Regions from separate parts of the Homo sapiens genome. Here regions 2 and 3 are each linked to region 1. Evidence: fine-mapped expression QTL. A gene starts in region 1. Each other region holds a variant in brackets. All regions are shown on one strand. Distances are between the middles of the regions. Region 1 holds the start of MTOR (mechanistic target of rapamycin kinase). Region 2 overlaps MTOR (mechanistic target of rapamycin kinase). Region 3 holds the start of MASP2 (MBL associated serine protease 2).

Evidence for each region. PIP is the estimated chance that this variant, and not a neighbour inherited with it, causes the effect. A credible set is the group of variants that fine-mapping cannot tell apart.
Region 2: its variant is the best candidate, but not a certain one, in a credible set for the expression of MTOR in activated naive CD4 T cells (Schmiedel 2018, PIP 0.62).
Region 3: its variant is the best candidate, but not a certain one, in a credible set for the expression of MTOR in whole blood (TOPMed, PIP 0.50).

What each region holds. Positions count from the first base shown.
Region 1 is chr1:11,260,774-11,264,998 of GRCh38, reverse strand. MTOR (mechanistic target of rapamycin kinase) reads left to right here and starts at 2,448. Exons shown (of 58, transcript NM_004958.4): 1 at 2,448-2,554. RefSeq lists an enhancer at 2,101-2,260 and a silencer at 2,681-2,730.
Region 2 is chr1:11,199,364-11,203,588 of GRCh38, reverse strand. MTOR (mechanistic target of rapamycin kinase) reads left to right here. Exons shown (of 58, transcript NM_004958.4): 27 at 3,886-4,048; 28 at 4,186-4,225. Among named protein-coding and RNA genes, the nearest start is that of ANGPTL7, 12 kb to the right of the region's middle. The variant T/C (reference allele first, on the strand shown) is at 1,626.
Region 3 is chr1:11,044,613-11,048,837 of GRCh38, reverse strand. It overlaps MASP2 (MBL associated serine protease 2), which reads left to right and starts at 1,599. Exons shown (of 11, transcript NM_006610.4): 1 at 1,599-1,635; 2 at 1,719-1,947; 3 at 2,105-2,282; 4 at 3,299-3,430. The coding sequence starts at 1,631. RefSeq lists an enhancer at 2,262-3,094. The variant C/T (reference allele first, on the strand shown) is at 2,278.

The DNA.
Region 1 (4,225 bases):
GTGTTGGGTCACTGTGCCTGGCCAATATCATAGATATTAACAATAACAACAACAACAACAAAAACCCTGCCAAACAAAGCATTTTGTTAGCCACGGAATATTGACATCTTTATTTGTTTATTTATTTATTTATTTGAGATGGAGTCTCACTATGTTGCCCAGGCTGGTCTCAAATGCCTGGGCTCATGCAATCTTCCTGCTTTGGCCTCCCAAAGTGCTGGGATTACAGGTGTGAGCCACCGCACCCAGCCCAACTATCTTTAATTTGGCAGTTTAGACCTTCTGAAAACTCATTTCTTCTACCTTCACTTGTTTTTATTACATAAGTAATTGATAATGTATAAAGAAAAAAAGTGTGTCTTTCCCAAATTACATCTTAGTTGTGCACATTTCCCCCATGTAAACAGAGACATATAAGAAATGCATAAATATTTTTGTAAATGGTTGTATTATACTTACATTGTTGCACAACTTGTAATTTTTAAACTAGTTGTGAACCTTTTCCTTCTTAGCAAATATTCATCTAATTACCACTATTTATTGTTATTATTATTATTTGAGACAGGATCTTTCTCTGCTGCCCAGGCTGCAGTGCAGTGGAGATCACAGATGACTGCAACCTTGAAGTCATAGACTCAAGTGATTCTCGTGCCTCAGCCTTCCAAGTAGCTGGGACTACAGGCATGTGCTACCACACACAGCTAATTTTTAAATTTCTTTTGTAGAGACAAGGGTCTCACTATGTTGCTCAGGCTGGTCTGGAACTCCTGGCCTCAAGCAATCCTGCCTCGGCCTCCCAAAGTGCTGGGATTCCAGGGATGAGCCACCATGCTAGGCTCTAAATTATAATTATTAATGGCTATGTATTTTTCTTATTATGAATGCATCTTTTTTTTTTTTTTTTTTTTTTTTTGAGATGGAGTCTCGCACTGTCACCCCAGCTGGAGCGCAGTGGCGCGATCTCGGCTCACTGCAACCTCCGCCTGCTGGCTTCAAGGGATTTTCCTATCTCAGCCTCCTGAGTAGCTGGCATTACAGGCACCTGCCACCACGCCTACCTTTTTTTTTTTTTTTTTGTATTTTTAGTAAAGACGGGGTTTCACTATGTTGGTCAAGCTGGTCTCAAACTCCTGACCTCATGATCCGCCCGCCTCGGCCTCCCAAAGTGCTGGGATTACAGGTGTGAGCCACCGCGCCCAAACGAATGCATCATATTTTATTGGACTCCTACTTTGAAATATTTAGGAATTTTCAGTGTTTACTATGACAAATAGCACTGTGATTAAAAAAAAATGTAGTCAAATCCACTTTTGCTGTTGATTTTTTTTTTTTTAATCTGTAGAGACATCGTCTCGCTATGTTGCCCAGGCTGGTCTGGAACTCCTGGCCTCAAGCGATCCTCCTGCTTTGGCCTCCCAAAGTGCGTGGGCCACCGTGACCAGCAGTTATTTATTTTCTTTGGTTGTGTGTGTGTGTGTGTGTGTGTGTGTGTGTGTGTGTGTGTATGTATGTATTGAGACGGAGCTTGCTCTGTTGCCCAGGCTAGAGTGCAGTGGCACGATCTCGGTGCATGCAACCTTCACCTCCCGGGTTCAGGCGATACTCGTGCCTCAGCCTCCCGAGTATCTGGGATTACAGGCGTGAGCCACCATGCCCAGCTAATTTTTGTATTTTCAGTAGAGACGGGGGGTGCGGGTGGGGGAATTTCACCATGTTGACCAGGCTGGTCTCGACTCCTGACCTACGGTGATCCGCCTGCCTCGGTCTCCCAAAGTGCTGGAATTATGGGCGTGAGCCACCGCGCCGGGCCAGCTATTGATTTTTTGAAAGGATTTTTAAAAAATAATGTTGCTTTGAAAATTTTTATTTATGACTAGCTCTTTTGGTTAAAACTTGGCTATGGTTTCTCTGGAGTGATCCTGAGTTGGATAATTTTGGGAAAGTTAGAGAATCTAATTAAAAACATTTTCAAATGCTTATTAATTGTAACAAAAGAGATATCACAGGATCCATAAAGAGCGCTAGCCCGAAACGTCTTTTGATGCAGTAATTCCTGGGCACCGGCATCGCTCACATTCTCCTCTCAGAATTACACCGGGAGGGGTCGCGAACCTCTGCTAGCCGCTCTCGCTGCGATCCGGAGATACCCAGACACCGGACTCCTTGAGTTCACAGCCCGGATGCAGAAGGGAATCCTAGCAGCGCCGTACCGGATGTGTGAGTGGAAGTGACTGAGGTGAACTCACGACCGATTGGTTCTCCCGAGTGGACCCAAGCCTGTTTTCACCTGCCACTGGCCGCGTGGTTTGTCTATTTGAACAGTCCCCGCCCCCTGGAGAAGCCGGGTCCTGAAGCTTCTCTTCTTCATTACTATTGGCCTGTTTTTCAGTCCATCTTCTCCCTATACCTGTCGATTGGTCCTCAGGGCTGGGAACCCTCCTTCCCTCGCTCCCGGCTTAGAGGACAGCGGGGAAGGCGGGCGGTGGGGCAGGGGGCCTGAAGCGGCGGTACCGGTGCTGGCGGCGGCAGCTGAGGCCTTGGCCGAAGCCGCGCGGTGAGTCTAGGGCCTGGCACGACCCCTCTAGGGCGGCGTAATGTCCAGACCCACGGCCAGCCTGCCCGTGGGGGGGCCAGGGGAAGCCGCCCGTCTGGGACGTGGGGTCCCCACATTGCCGGCCCCACGACCTGGGCACCGTCTGAGGCCTTGACTCCCACCCCTCGAGGCAACGCCCACCTCCCCGGGACCCCCAAGAGACCCCTGGACCCTTCGGCCCGCGGTACGTCCGCCCGAAGGCCGGCCCATCAGCTCTGGTATTGCCCTTTGGGTCTTTTGCCTGTCACAGCCACCCTTTCTTTTGAGCCACGTATAAAAATTGTGTATCTCTGCCCCAGGGAACACTAGCGTCCGTGTCAGCCCCTTGTCCTCCACTGTGGACACCTCTCAGAGATCCAGTCCCCGAAACTGAGCTTGGTTACATCGTTGGGGTACATCTTCTCTCCCTCTCCCCCAGCCCCATCCCTGTTTCCCCCATCCAATCTTAACTTCCTTAAGCCCTATCAACACCATTAGGATATTTGACTTCAGATATCCTAAGTTTAATTGAATTCAGTCTGGAGCAGATGGCCTGTGGGCCTCAGATCATATAAAGATACACTGGTTCTTTCCTGAGAATAGAAATCCCTTGCCAGCCACCTTCCCCCCTTTCGGACGCACACACATACACACAAACTGGAGTAGTTTTCTTAGCAGGGATTCTTAAGTTTCTTCTCCCCTAAAGGATGACATTTCTTTCTGCAGTCTTCTTCTTGGCAGTGGAGTATTTGAAAGCTTTACAAAACCAATTATTCCCAGGTTTTTCCTCTGTGCCTTACAAATTCTTTCAAAAATAAGAATTTTGAGAAATTGGTTTTGTAGCATAAGCTGAACATACTTGGGATAGGTGTATGTTACACCCATGGCAGTGTGGGCATAATTGAGGAATGAGGGAATGAGCTCAGGAACTAATTGGTGTTTTTTGTTTTGTTTTGAGACGGAGTTTCGCTCTGTCGCCCAGGCTGGAGTGCAGTGGCTCGATCTCTGCTCACTGCAAGCTCCGCCTCCCGGGTTCCCGCCATTCTCCTGCCTCAGCCTCCCGAGTAGCTGGGACTACAGGCGCCCGCCACCATACGGCTAATTTTTTTTTTTTTTTGTATTTTTAGTAGAGGCGGGATTTCACCGTGTTGGCCAGGATGGTCTCGATTTCCTGACCTCGTGATCCGCCCGCCTCGGCCTCCCAAACCCGGCCAGGAACTAATTACTTTCTTTTAGCTTACATTTGAAGAGCTAGTCCCCTGTAGAACTGCGTTGTTCAGTACAAGAACCACCAGCCACATGTGGCTGTGGAGCACTTGAAATGTGACTAGTCCAGGCCGGGCATGGTGGCTCACACCTGTAATCCCAGCACTTTGGGAGGCCAAGGCGGGCAGATCACCTGAGGTCAGGAATTTGAGACCAGCCTGGCCAACATAATAAAACCCCATCTCTACTAAAAACACACAAAAATTAGCCAGGCGTGGTGCTGCACATCTGTAGTCCCAGCTACTCGGGAAGCTGAGGCAGGAGAATCATTTGAACCCGGGAGGTGGATGTTGCAGTGAGCCGAGATCATGCCACTGCACTCCAGCCTGGGTGACAGAGCGAGACTCTGTCTCAAAAAAAAAAAAAAAAATGACTAGTCCAAATTGA
Region 2 (4,225 bases), 61 kb after region 1:
GATTCTCCTGCCTCAGCCTCCCGTGTAGCTGGGATTACAGGTGTGTACCACCACACCCAGCTAATTTTGTATTTTTAGTAAAGACGGGGTTTCGCCATGTTGGCCAGGCTGGTCTTCAACTCCTGGCCTCAAGTGATCTGCTCACCTTGGCCTTTCAAAGTGCTGGGATTACAGACATGAGCCACTTGGCCAAAATTTTTTTTATTGATACATAATAGATGTACATATATTTTCAAAGTACATGTGATATTTCGATACATTCATATAATGTGTAATAAAACAAATCAGGATAATTGGGATATTCATCACTTTAGACATCTTTTTTTGTTGTTGTTGTTTGGTTGGTTTTTTTGTTTTCATTTTTGTTTTTGTTTTTGAGATGGAGTCTTGCTCTGTCACCCAGGCTGGAGTGCAGTGGCGCAATTGTGGCTCACTGCAACCTCCGTCTCCTGGGTTCAAGCGATTCTCCTGCCTCAGCCTCCCGAGTAGCTGGGAGTACAGGCACACGCCACCACGCCCGGCTATTTTTTGTAATTTTAGTAGACGTGGGGTTTCACCATGTTGGCCAGGCTGGTCTTGAACTCCTGACCTCAAATGATCCACCTGCCTTGGCCTCCCAGAGTGCTGGGATTACAGGCGTGAGCCACCACGCCCCGCCTGGTTTTTTGTTTTTGTTTTTGTTTTGGAAACAGGGTCTCTGCTGCCCGGGCTGGAGTGCAGTGGGACGATCTCGGCTCACTGCAGCCTCAACCTCCTGGGCTCAAGTGATCCTCCCACGTCAGCCTCCTGAGTAGCTGGGACTGCAGACACGCACCAGGCCCAGCTAATTTTATTTTTTGTAGAGACGAGGTCTCACTATGTTGCCCAGGCTGATCTCAAACTCCTGGACTCAAGCAGTCATCCTGCCTCAGCCTCCAAAAGTGCCGTGATTTATAGGCATGAGTCATCACCATTTTTTTTTTAATTTTTAAAAATTTTTATAGATTTTGGAGTACAGGTGCAGGTTTGTTACATGGATATGTTGCATAGTGGTGAAGTCTGGGCTTTTCGTAGAACCATCACCTGAATAATAGTGTACATCGTACCTATCAGGTAATTTCTCATCCCTCAACCCCGCCAAAAAAAATATTGTTTTAAATAGTAAATCTTTTTTTTTTTTTTTTTTTTTGAGACGGAGTTTTGCTCTGTTTCCCAGGCTGGAGTGCAGTGGCGCGATCTTGGCTCACCGCAACCTCTACTTCCCAGGTTCAAGCCATTCTCCTGCCTCAGCCTCCCAATGAGCTGGGACTACAGGTGCACACCTGGCCAATTTTTTGTACTTTTAGTAGAGATGGGATTTCACCATGTTAGCCAGGATGGTCTCGATCTCCTGACCTCGCAATCTGCCCACCTCGGCCTCCCAGAGTGCTGGGATTACAGGCATGAGCCACTGTGCCCGGCCTAAATAGTAAATCTTAAACAGCCATTTAAAATTTGGTTTACAGGCTGGGCATTGTGGCTCCTGCCTATAATCTCAGCACTCTAGGAGGCTGAGACAGGAGGATCACTTGAGGCCAAGAGTTCAAGACCAGCCTGGGCAACCTAGCGAGACTCTATCTCTACAAAAATGAAAAATTAGCCAAGCG[T/C]GGTGGCATGAAGCTGTAATCCTAGCTACTCAGGAGGCTAAGGCGGGGGGATTACTTGAGTCCAGGAGTTTAGAGGCTGCAGAGAGCCACAATCGTGCCCCTGCATTCCAGCCTAGATGGCAGAGCAAGACTGCATCTCAAAAAAATTTTTTTTTGGTTTATAAAACTTCTAATGCATGTGAAAGATTTATAATATAATGTAAGTAAATAAAATGGAATACAAAATTGAAAATTAAAATAAATGTGAATAGGATAAAGATTAGAAAGTAATATAGCAATGGTTATCTTTAGGGAAGGCTTAAGGAGTGATTATTTTCTTTTTTATTCTCTTCTTTATTTCTTAAATTTTTCTGCATTGGATATTAATTATTTATAATGAGGCATAAAATGGTGATTTAATTAATAAGCAGCCCTTCGCATTGGCAAGAAGCAGAAAGCAAGGCATTTCACTTCATTTTTGTCAGCAGCTGGTTTGCTGTTATGATATATATTTAGCAGTAGTGATGGCCCCTGAGACTGTTGGTTTGATGCCATGATTTGCATCCTCTAATTTCTTTCAAGTATTTTTTAATGCTTTAAAATAGTTTCTAGGACTTCCCTGTTTCCGTAGTGTGGAGATATCATGTACTCAGCTGATGTATTTATTATTCCTCTTTTCTCTCCAGTCACCTCTGAGCACAGTGTTATCCATGAGAGGCTTGTGATATACACAATGTTTTTATCCCCTTAGTCCCAAATACGTTCATTCAAGATCCAATGTGGCCTCTGACCTAGATCAGGAAAACTTTTTTTATGATTTTAGAGATGAAGGTCTTGGTTATTGCCCTGGCTGGTCTTGAACTGCTAATCTCAAGAGATCCTCCTGCCTCAGCCTCCCAAGTCACCAGGATGACCAGCGACTGTAATTACCTGGCTCCGAAAACTTACTTTTAATTTTTTTTTTTTTTTTGAAACAGAGTCTCGCTCTGTTGCCCAGGCTGGAGTGCAGTGGTGTGATCTTGGCTCACTGCAAACTCTGCCTCCCAGGTTCAAGCCATTCTCCTGCCTCAGCCTCCTGAGAAGCTGGGACTACAGGCCACCACCACCGCGCCCGGCTAATTTTTTGTATTTTTAGTAGAGACGGGGTTTCACCATGTTAGCCAGGATGGTCTCGATCTCCTGACCTTGTGATCCGCCCGCCTCAGCCCCCCAAAGTACTGGGATTACAGGCGTGAGCCACCACGCCTGGCCTTATTTTTAAATTTATAACAGACTTTTTTTGGTCTTCATTTGATCCTTTGGATTTCAAATTTTGTTTTTTCTATCAAATTCCAAAATTATACACATTGGTCTAACTTAACCTGTTAATATGTAACAGAAAATAGGTATAGAGGCATCAAATGCTAAATCTATCCATTGTAGGTATATCCTGTTTTTTCCCATTTCCTTCCCCGCACAGTCACCAGAACAGTGGGGAGGACAGAATTAATGTTAGATGTAAGGGATGGCAAATGTGTCCATCATGTGGTACTGTGGTAATGTAAAGTGGTCATAGTAATCTTTGAAATGGAACCTCTGGTTCCATGTCTTTGTGAGGCCCCAACTGTTGGCTTAGAAAATCTTTTAGAACTTAAGGATTTGGATCCTATTTGCTAATGCTTCTAGTCCTGTTGTCATTTTTTATGACCATCCAACTAAGGATTCTGGTTATATTTTGAAAGCAATTGCAGATGCTGCCTTTGACATTTCTGACCTTAAGAATTTAGACATTGTCCCAGAAACATCCCAAGAATCATTTAATGATTATTATTTTCTGCATTTGTTAATGCCAACTTCTATGTTAGAAGTCCCTATACTGTTCATTTCCCATTTCCTCCAGTGAAGAGAAATAATGCAAAAACTGCCAAGAAATATTCCTTTGGAGAAAAGTCACTTTGCTCTGCTCTTCTCCCCGCCCTGCCACTCGCCCCCCAAGTCCCTGAATATCACAATGTCTGTACCTGCAGTGTAAAATTCAGTAGACACTAGCCATATGTGGTTAATTAAAAATAAATAAAATGTAAAATTCAGTTCCTTGGCCACACTTGCCACAGTTCAAGTGCTTTAGTGATCACTGGCTACCATATTGGACAGGAAAATTCTCTTGGACAGCACTGGTCTGTATAGCACTGGTTTGTATAACCAAAATCAGTGATGCCAAAAGCGAATTGATAGGTGTGACTTTGAGGCAGCAGGCAGAGGCACGGGAGGTCTCTCCATTTTCCACCTTCTCTGCCTTCAGGGATCTCTTCAATGCTGCATTTGTGTCCTGCTGGTCTGAACTGAATGAAGATCAACAGGATGAGCTCATCAGAAGCATCGAGTTGGCCCTCACCTCACAAGACATCGCTGAAGTCACACAGACCCTCTTAAACTTGGCTGAATTCATGGAACACAGTGACAAGGTGAGACTTTTCCCCATTGTCCAGATGGAGGCTGACAGGGAACCAGCTGGTGGGAGGAGAGAAGCATCCACACAGCCTTCTCTTGTTTGTGCCCCATCTGCCATTTTCCTGTGCTGTGAGGTTTTGCTCTTCTCCAGGGCCCCCTGCCACTGAGAGATGACAATGGCATTGTTCTGC
Region 3 (4,225 bases), 220 kb after region 1:
TTGTCCCATCTCAGCCTGCCAAGTAGCTGGGACTAAAGGTGCATGCCACCATGCCTGGCTAATTTAAAAAAATTTTTTTTTTTTTTAGAGACAAGGTCTTGCTATGTTGCCCAAGCTGGTCTTGAACTCCCGGTCTCAGGCGACCCACCTGCCTCAGCCTCCCAGCCTCCTGGGATTATGGGCAGGAGTCACTACACCCAGCCAGAGTCCCGGTCTCTAAAAGAAAATAGGCCAGGCATGGTGGCTCACGCCTGTAATCCCAGCACTTTGGGAGGCTGAGGCGGGTGGATCACCTGTGGTTGGGAGTTCGAGACCAGCCTGACCAACATGGAGAAACTCCGTCTCTACTAAAAATACAAAACTAGCCGGACGTGGTGGCGCATGCCTGTAATCCCAGCTACTCGGGAGGCTGAGGCAGGAGAATTGCTCGAACCCCGGAGGCAGAGGTTTGGTGGCTCACACCTGTAATCCCAGCACTTTGCGAGGCTGAGGCAGGTGCATCGCTTTGGCTCAGGAGTTCAAGACCAGCCTGGGCAACACAGGGAGACCCCCATCTCTACAAAAAACAAAAACAAATATAAAGGGGATAAAAAAAAAAAAAAGACAAGACATGAATCCATGAGGACAGAGTGTGGAAGAGGAAGCAGCAGCCTCAAAGTTCTGGAAGCTGGAAGAACAGATAAACAGGTGTGAAATAACTGCCTGGAAAGCAACTTCTTTTTTTTTTTTTTTTTTTTTGAGGTGGAGTCTCACTCTGTCGTCCAGGCTGGAGTGCAGTGGTGCGATCTCGGATCACTGCAACCTCCGCCTCCCAGGCTCAAGCAATTCTCCTGCCTCAGCCTCCCGAGTAGCTGGGATTATAAGTGCGCGCTGCCACACCTGGATGATTTTTGTATTTTTAGTAGAGATGGGATTTCACCATGTTGGTCAGGCTGGTCTCAAACTCCCAACCTCGTGATCCACCCACCTTGGCCTCCCAAAGTGCTGGGATTACAGGTATAAGCCACCGAGCCCAGCCAAAAGCGACTTCTAAGCCTGCAAGGGAATCGGGAATTGGTGGCACCAGGTCCTTCTGACAGGGTTTAAGAAATTAGCCAGCCTGAGGCTGGGCACGGTGGCTCACACCTGTAATCCCAGCACTTTGGGAGGCTAAGGCAGGTGGATCACCTGAGGGCAGGAGTTCAAGACCAGCCTGACCAACATGGAGAAACCCCATCCCTACCAAAAATAAAAAATTAGCCAGGTGTGGTGGTGCTCGCCTGTAATCCCAGCTACTTGGGAGGCTGAGGTGGGAGGATTGCTTGAACACAGGAAGTAGAGGCTGCAGTGAGCTATGATTGCAGCACTGCACTGAAGCCGGGGCAACAGAACAAGATCCAAAAAAAAGGGAGGGGTGAGGGGCAGAGCCAGGATTTGTTTCCAGGCTGTTGTTACCTAGGTCCGACTCCTGGCTCCCAGAGCAGCCTGTCCTGCCTGCCTGGAACTCTGAGCAGGCTGGAGTCATGGAGTCGATTCCCAGAATCCCAGAGTCAGGGAGGCTGGGGGCAGGGGCAGGTCACTGGACAAACAGATCAAAGGTGAGACCAGCGTAGGGCTGCAGACCAGGCCAGGCCAGCTGGACGGGCACACCATGAGGTAGGTGGGCGCCCACAGCCTCCCTGCAGGGTGTGGGGTGGGAGCACAGGCCTGGGCCCTCACCGCCCCTGCCCTGCCCATAGGCTGCTGACCCTCCTGGGCCTTCTGTGTGGCTCGGTGGCCACCCCCTTGGGCCCGAAGTGGCCTGAACCTGTGTTCGGGCGCCTGGCATCCCCCGGCTTTCCAGGGGAGTATGCCAATGACCAGGAGCGGCGCTGGACCCTGACTGCACCCCCCGGCTACCGCCTGCGCCTCTACTTCACCCACTTCGACCTGGAGCTCTCCCACCTCTGCGAGTACGACTTCGTCAAGGTGCCGTCAGGACGGGAGGGCTGGGGTTTCTCAGGGTCGGGGGGTCCCCAAGGAGTAGCCAGGGTTCAGGGACACCTGGGAGCAGGGGCCAGGCTTGGCCAGGAGGGAGATCAGGCCTGGGTCTTGCCTTCACTCCCTGTGACACCTGACCCCACAGCTGAGCTCGGGGGCCAAGGTGCTGGCCACGCTGTGCGGGCAGGAGAGCACAGACACGGAGCGGGCCCCTGGCAAGGACACTTTCTACTCGCTGGGCTCCAGCCTGGACATTACCTTCCGCTCCGACTACTCCAACGAGAAGCCGTTCACGGGGTTCGAGGCCTTCTATGCAGC[C/T]GAGGGTGAGCCAAGAGGGGTCCTGCAACATCTCAGTCTGCGCAGCTGGCTGTGGGGGTAACTCTGTCTTAGGCCAGGCAGCCCTGCCTTCAGTTTCCCCACCTTTCCCAGGGCAGGGGAGAGGCCTCTGGCCTGACATCATCCACAATGCAAAGACCAAAACAGCCGTGACCTCCATTCACATGGGCTGAGTGCCAACTCTGAGCCAGGGATCTGAGGACAGCATCGCCTCAAGTGACGCAGGGACTGGCCGGGCGCAGCAGCTCACGCCTGTAATTCCAGCACTTTGGGAGGCCGAGGCTGGCTGATCATTTGAGGTCAGGAGTTCAAGGCCAGCCAGGGCAACACGGTGAAACTCTATCTCCACTAAAACTACAAAAATTAGCTGGGCGTGGTGGTGCGCACCTGGAATCCCAGCTACTAGGGAGGCTGAGGCAGGAGAATTGCTTGAACCTGCGAGGTGGAGGCTGCAGTGAACAGAGATTGCACCACTACACTCCAGCCTGGGCGACAGAGCTAGACTCCGTCTCAAAAAACAAAAAACAAAAACGACGCAGGGGCCGAGGGCCCCATTTACAGCTGACAAAGTGGGGCCCTGCCAGCGGGAGCGCTGCCAGGATGTTTGATTTCAGATCCCAGTCCCTGCAGAGACCAACTGTGTGACCTCTGGCAAGTGGCTCAATTTCTCTGCTCCTTAGGAAGCTGCTGCAAGGGTTCAGCGCTGTAGCCCCGCCCCCTGGGTTTGATTGACTCCCCTCATTAGCTGGGTGACCTCGGGCCGGACACTGAAACTCCCACTGGTTTAACAGAGGTGATGTTTGCATCTTTCTCCCAGCGCTGCTGGGAGCTTGCAGCGACCCTAGGCCTGTAAGGTGATTGGCCCGGCACCAGTCCCGCACCCTAGACAGGACGAGGCCTCCTCTGAGGTCCACTCTGAGGTCATGGATCTCCTGGGAGGAGTCCAGGCTGGATCCCGCCTCTTTCCCTCCTGACGGCCTGCCTGGCCCTGCCTCTCCCCCAGACATTGACGAGTGCCAGGTGGCCCCGGGAGAGGCGCCCACCTGCGACCACCACTGCCACAACCACCTGGGCGGTTTCTACTGCTCCTGCCGCGCAGGCTACGTCCTGCACCGTAACAAGCGCACCTGCTCAGGTGAGGGAGGCTGCCTGGGCCCCAACGCACCCTCTCCTGGGATACCCGGGGCTCCTCAGGGCCATTGCTGCTCTGCCCAGGGGTGCGGAGGGCCTGGGCCCTGGACACTGGGTGCTTCTAGGCCCTGCTGCCTCCAGCTCCCCTTCTCAGCCCTGCTTCCCCTCTCAGCAGCCAGGCTCATCAGTGCCACCCTGCCCTAGCGACTGAGACTAATTCTAACATCCCACTGTGTACCTGGTTCCACCTGGGCTCTGGGAACCCCTCATGTAGCCACGGGAGAGTCGGGGGTATCTAGCCCTCGTTCCTTGGGACCTGGTTCCCTGGTTCCCTGCACTGTGGGACGGGCCAGTGCTCTGGGGCGTGGGCAGCCCCACCTGCTGGCGCTGACCCTGCCTCCCCCGACTCGGTTTCTCCCTCTCGGTGTCTCTCCTTGCCTCTCTGATCTCTCTTCCAGAGCAGAGCCTCTAGCCTCCCCTGGAGCTCCGGCCTGCCCAGCAGGTCAGAAGCCAGAGCCAGCCTGCTGGCCTCAGCTCCGGGTTGGGCTGAGATGGCTGTGCCCCAACTCCCATTCACCCACCATGGACCCAATAATAAACCTGGCCCCACCCCACCTGCTGCCACGTGTCTCTGGGGTGGGAGGGTCGGGAGGCGGCGGGGTGCGCTCCTCTCTGCCTACCCTCCTCACAGCCTCATGAACCCCAGGTCTGTGGGAGCCTCCTCCATGGGGCCACAGGCTCCTTGGCCTCACCCCCCGTTTTGAAGATGGGGCACTGAGGCCCGGAGAGGGGCAAGGCC